2 separate regions of the Homo sapiens genome follow, and region 2 is linked to region 1. Evidence: fine-mapped expression QTL. A gene starts in region 1. The other region holds a variant in brackets. All regions are shown on one strand. Distances are between the middles of the regions.

Evidence for each region. PIP is the estimated chance that this variant, and not a neighbour inherited with it, causes the effect. A credible set is the group of variants that fine-mapping cannot tell apart.
Region 2: its variant is the best candidate, but not a certain one, in a credible set for the expression of ITGB1 in whole blood (TOPMed, PIP 0.52).

The regions. Positions count from the first base shown.
Region 1 is chr10:32,956,768-32,959,671 of GRCh38, forward strand. It overlaps ITGB1 (integrin subunit beta 1), which reads right to left and starts at 1,463. Exons shown (of 16, transcript NM_002211.4): 1 at 1,378-1,463. RefSeq lists silencers at 161-322, 716-1,165, 1,236-1,815 and an enhancer at 1,986-2,035.
Region 2 is chr10:33,048,801-33,051,704 of GRCh38, forward strand. The region is part of intron 2 of ITGB1-DT (ITGB1 divergent transcript); the gene reads left to right. Among named protein-coding and RNA genes, the nearest start is that of IATPR, 67 kb to the right of the region's middle. RefSeq lists an enhancer at 545-1,045. The variant A/G (reference allele first, on the strand shown) is at 1,228.

The DNA.
Region 1 (2,904 bases):
AAGAAACCTTACCAATGATGTTACCAATTATCTTCCGAGATATTTTTAACATCTTTTTACTATAAAAGAAGGGCTGAAAAGGAGTCAATACTCATTGAGCATCTACTCTCAAGCTAAGTTTTTTACATTTTGCATTTGATTTTCAGAACTATAGTTAGGAAGGTTACTTGTGGTTTAAACGCGGACTCTGGAACTAGACCCCATGCCTTCTCCAGGAGCTCCTGATGACCACAGGCAACTTACTTTTGCTCCCTGTGCCTCAGTTTCTTCACTCGGAAAATGGGAATCGAAACAGTACCAATCTCATTAGAGCGGTTCCAGAATTAAATAATACATGTAAAATGCCTAGAGCTAAACTTGGCCCTCACTGTCATTATTATAAAAATGAATTATTAATGTAGATATTACTGTTCCTATTTCACAGATGAGGAAACGGAAGCTTAGAGAATGCAACTTACTAATGATCATACCAATGAGTGCAAAGTTTTGGACTCAAAAGCACGAATTTGATTAAATAAAAGTTACTTAGAGAGTAGGAGTCTCATAAATCCAATTTATGAAGCCTAAGAAATGACACGCGGTAAAATGATACTAGACACAGGCCGGGCTCTCAGGCTCGCGGACCGGGTCTGAGCACAAGCTGGCCATGGCCATGCGTCCTGGTCCCGGGGTGCCCGGCAGGGACCGGCGACTCTTGACGTTTATAAACACGGGGAAGTGGACTGCACTGCCGCCACCGCACCCCCGGTCCCCAGCGGCTCCACTAAGCCAACTTCTACCCGGCTCCCGCCGCCCCCGCCCGCGGCGCTGGCCCCAGGGCCGCCTCCTGGCAGCCGGAGGAGACCAGTCCCCGTCGCGGGCGCCGACGGCTGGCTCGACGCTGCTCCAAGGACAGCAGCTCGCGAGGGAGCGAGAGACAAAGGCACCGGACCCGTCCAGGGGAGCGCCGAGTCCCAAACGCCGAGCCCCGGGTGGCCTCGCTGGCTCCCACCTGCGCTTGCCCAGCCCGGCGGGAGACCGCAGGTGTCAGGGGCCGTTCGGGCCCGGTCCCCCGCAGCTCCGGCAGCCCCGACGTGACAGCGCCCAGGCCGGCGACCCTCACGTTCGGAACGCGGCTGGGCTGGCTCTGCGCCCGGGGGCTGCCAGCGCCGGGGACCCGAGGCGGGTGGCGGCGTGCGGACTTCCTCCTGGACTAGCCTGGAATCCTGCCCCAGCCCCCAACCGCTGGCGGCCGCCCCCGCCCCCGCCCCCGCCCCCACCCCCACGCCCGGCACAAAGGTCCCGGCGCGGCCCGGCCGGCGGCTTTAAGTGCTGCCGCGCACAGGAGACCGGAGGCCGCGGCCCGCGCTCCCACACCCGAGGCCCGCCGGCCCCTACCTTTTCCGCGCGGCGTCCGGGGCCCGGCGCGGTGGGCTCGGGCCTGCTGTTCCGCGACTCCCGCTGGGCCTCTCCCGCGGGCTGGCGGGGCCTCCCGGGTGTCGGGCGCGGCGGGTGGCGGCGGCTCCTCCTCCTCAGGGGCGGGAGGAGGGGACTCGGCGGCCCAGAGCCGCCCCCCGGCAGGAAACCAGCCGCGGCCCCGCCTCCTCTGCGCGTCTGATCCCGCTCCCGAGGCCGCCGCCGCCCTCTCCCTCCGGAAACGCATTCCTCTCCCGCCGCGTCAGCCCGGCCCGGGGCTAGGAGGAGGCGGAGGATGGGGCAGGAAGTGCGACCGGGACAAAGGAACCGGCTGCGCGGGAGCGCGCCTGAGGGAGGCCGCGGGGGGCAGGGCCGGGACTGCGTTGAGACAGTCGCCGTGCCTCAGTTTCCTCCTCTGCGAAGGGCGGGAGGAGTCGGACGCGCCCTAGAGCCCCGCGCGTTCCTGGTGTAGCCTGCTGGGCCCGTGTTCTTTAAGTTCCTCTTCCTCGGAGCCGCGCGTTCGACCCTCGCTCCCGTTTGTCCACTGATGTCCCGTTTCGAGCCCGGGAGATCCTGCATCTCGGAAGCCCCCTGAGTCCCGAGGCAAATCGGGACCGTGAGCCCCCCTACCCTGCAGGGCTCCATGGGGCCAAAAACCACGTGGTCCTTCTGGAAGGGAACTGGCTAAGCCAGGACTGCTTTTCTGGAGTGATAATGTGCTTGCCTGTGTCTAAGAGAAAGGTGAAGAATTGGGAAACCCATGGGTGTCACGAAGGGTGGTGAGACTGGGGAACGTTTTAGAAAACCTGGTGAGTTGCGTCCTGCTTTTGATAGATTTATCTGGAGGTACCTTTATGGGGAACAGGGATGAGAAGGAAAAGTTTCTTCCTAAGGAGTACAGTTTCTGTTTCACCTCTTAAAAAAAAAAAATTTGGAGATTGGGGCTGGAAACAACGTTTGAAAGAGAAGGAAACATTCATTATGAGAATGGCTGAACGCATGTCGATTCGATGATTGAAGTCTGTACCAGCCAAAATCATACTGAAACCCAGTAATTTAGTATATGCTACTGGCAAGCTGCTATCCTGGTAGCAGAAAATGCTGTGGGTTCCGCTTGGTGAGCTGCAGCACCCTGTTGGGAAAAGAGCTCAAAAATTACCAGATTTATGAAATAGAAGTGTTTCTCTTGCAGGAGATTAGGGACTGGAATGCCCATTTGGCTGCTGCCAATCAATATAAGAGAAAATGAAGCGATCACATCTAAGAAAATTTGCTCATTACTTACCAGCAAAATCAAAACTTGATTAGCCAATCTGAAGACCTCTAGGAAATGAGCACTATTTTTCCCACTTAATGGATGTTCAAGCTTAAGAGGCTAAATGATGTTCCTATATTAATATCTCAATGGTCAAACTGCCATTAGAACTCAACATTCTTGAATTTTAAAGGTATCGGTTTTACCATTGTTCAGAATTCATCAGAATTGGCCCAGTCTCAGCACAGAAAACT
Region 2 (2,904 bases), 92 kb after region 1:
CTCTCTCTCTCTCTCTGTCTCTCACACATACTCTTTATCCACTTATCAGTTGACGGGCACTTAGGTTGACTCCATATCTTTGCAATTGTGAATTGTGCTGTGATGAACATGCATTCAGGTGTCTTTCTTGTATCATGACTAATTTTCTTTTGGGTAGATACCCAGTAGTGGATTGCTGGATCGAATGGTAGATCTATTTTGAGTTCTTTGAGAAATTTCCAAACTGTTTTCCATAAAGGTTGTGAGAGGTGACAGCGTGCTGGCAGTCCTCAGAGCCCTCGCTTGCTCTCAGCACCTCCCCTGCCTGGGCTCCCATTTTGGTGGCATTTGAGGAGCCCTTCAGTCCCCCACTGCACTGTGGGAGCCCCTTTCTGGGCTGGCCAAGGCCGGAGCCCACTCCCTCAGCTTGCAGGGAGGTGTGGCGGGAGAGACAAGAGCGGGAACCGGAGCTGTGTGCGGCACTTGCGGGCCAGCTGGAGTTCCGGGTGGGCGTGGGCTTGGTGGGCCCCGCACTCGGAGCAGCCAGCCAGCCCTGCTGGCCCCGGGCAATGGGGGACTTAGCACCCGGGCCAGTGGCTGCGGAGGGTGTACTGGGTCCCCCAGCAGTGCCGGCCCACCGGCGCTGCGCTCGATTTCTCGCCGGGCCTTGGCTGCCTTCCCGCGGGGCAGGGCTCGGGACCTGCAGCCCACCATGCCTGAGCCTCCCACCCCCTCCGTGGGCTCCTGTGCGGCCCGAGCCTCCCCGACGAGCGCCACCACCTGCTCCAGGGCGCCCAGTCCCATCGACCACCCAAGGGCTGAGGAATGCGAGCACAGGGCGCAGGACTGGCAGGCAGCTCCACCTGCAGCCCCGGTGCGGGATCCGCTAGGTGAAGCCAGCTGGGCTCCTGAGTCTGGTGGGGACGTGGAGAGTCGTTATATCTAGCTCAGGGATTGTAAATACACCAATCAGCACCCTGTGTTTAGCTCAAGGTTTGTGAGTGCACCAATTGACACTCTGTATCTAGCTGCTCTGGTGAGGACGTGGAGAACCTTTATGTCTAGCTCAAGGATTGTAAATACACCAGTCGGCACTCTGTATGTAGCTCAAGGTTTGTAAACACACCAATCAGCACCCTGTGTTTAGCTCAAGGTTTGTTAGTGCACCAATCAACACTCTGTATCTAGCTGCTCTGGTGGGGCCTTGGAAAACCTGTGTGTGGAAACTCTGTATCTAACTAATCCGAT[A/G]GGGACGTGGAGAACCTTTGTATCTAGCTCAGGGATTGTAAACGCACCAATCAGCGCCCGGACAAAACAGGCCACTGGGCTCTACCAATCAGCAGGATGTGGGTGGGGCCAGATAAAATAAAAGCAGGCTGCGGGAGCCAGCATTGGCAACTCGCTCGGGTCCCCTTCCACACTGTGGGAGCTTTGTTGTTTCGCTTTTTGCAATAAATCTTGCTACTACTCAATCTTTGGGTCCACGCTGCTTTTATGAGCTGTAACACTCACCACGAAAGTCTGCAGCTTCACTCCTGAAGCCAGCGAGACCACGAGCCCACCAGGAGAAACGAGCAACTCCAGACGCACCACCTTAAGAGCTGTAACACTCACCGCGAAGATCTGCAGCTTCACTCCTGAGCTCAGCGAGACCACGAGCCCACAGGGAGGAAAGAACAACTCCAGACGCGCTACCTTAAGAGCTGTAACGCTCACTGCGAAGGTCCGCGGCTTCACTCCTGAGCCAGCGAGACCACGAACCCACCAGAAGAAAAACTCCAAACACATCTGAACATCAGAAGAGACAGACTCCAGGCGCGCCACCTTAAGAACTGTAACACTCACCGCGAGAGTCCGCAGCTTCATTCTTGAAGTCAGTGAGACCAAGAACCCACCAATTCCGGACACAGTTGTAGCAACCCCAACAGTGTCTAAGTGTTTCCTTTTCCCTGCATCTGCACCAACATCTATTGTTTTTTGACTTTTTGATAATGGCCATTCTGGCTGGGTTAAGGTGGTATCTCATTGTGGCTTTAATTTGCATTTCCCTGATGATTAGTGATGTTGAACACCTTTTCATGTTTTTTGGCCATTTGTGTGTCTTTTGGGAAATGTCTGTTCATGTCATTTGACAACTTTTTAATAGGATTTTTTTTATCTTGCTGATTTGTTTGAGTTGCTTGTAGATTCTGAATATTAGTCCTTTGTTGCGTGTATAGTTTGTAAATATTTTCTCCCATTCTGTGGGATGTCTATTTACTCTGCTGATTATTTCTTTTGCTGTGCAGAAGCTTAATTTAATTAGGTCCCACTAATTTTCTTTTTGTTGCATTTGCTTTCGGGATCTTGGTCATACATTTTTAGCTTAGGACGATGTCCAGAAGAGTTTTCCCTACTTTATCTTCTAGGATTTTTGTGGTTTCAGGTCTTAAAGTCTTTAATTCATCTCAAGTTAATTTTTATATATGGTGAGCGATAGAGATCCAGTTTCATTGTTCTACCTGTGGTTATCCAATTTTCCCAGCACCATTTATTGTATAGGGTGTCCTTTCCCCAGTGTATGTTTTCATCTGCTTTGTTGAAGATTGGTGGCTTCCAGGTATTTGGCTCTAATTCTGGGTTCTTTATTGTGTTTCATTGGTCTAGGTGTCTTACTTTCATATCAGTACCATGCTGTTTTGGTTACTATATCCTTATTCCTCTGGCTTTGTTCTTTTTGCCTAAGATTGCTTTGGCTATTGGAAGTGGGGAGAAACAGATATTAACTTGCAAATGTTCTTTTTGGAATTTAAATGATCATTTGAGACAGTCATTGTCTTGAAAAATGGTCTTCTTTCCTGTAATGGATAATGCATTAACAAGAAGGAGAACAAGAACAATTGTTCTCGTTGGTGGGTCAGTCCTATCTCTCTCTTTCTTTTCCCT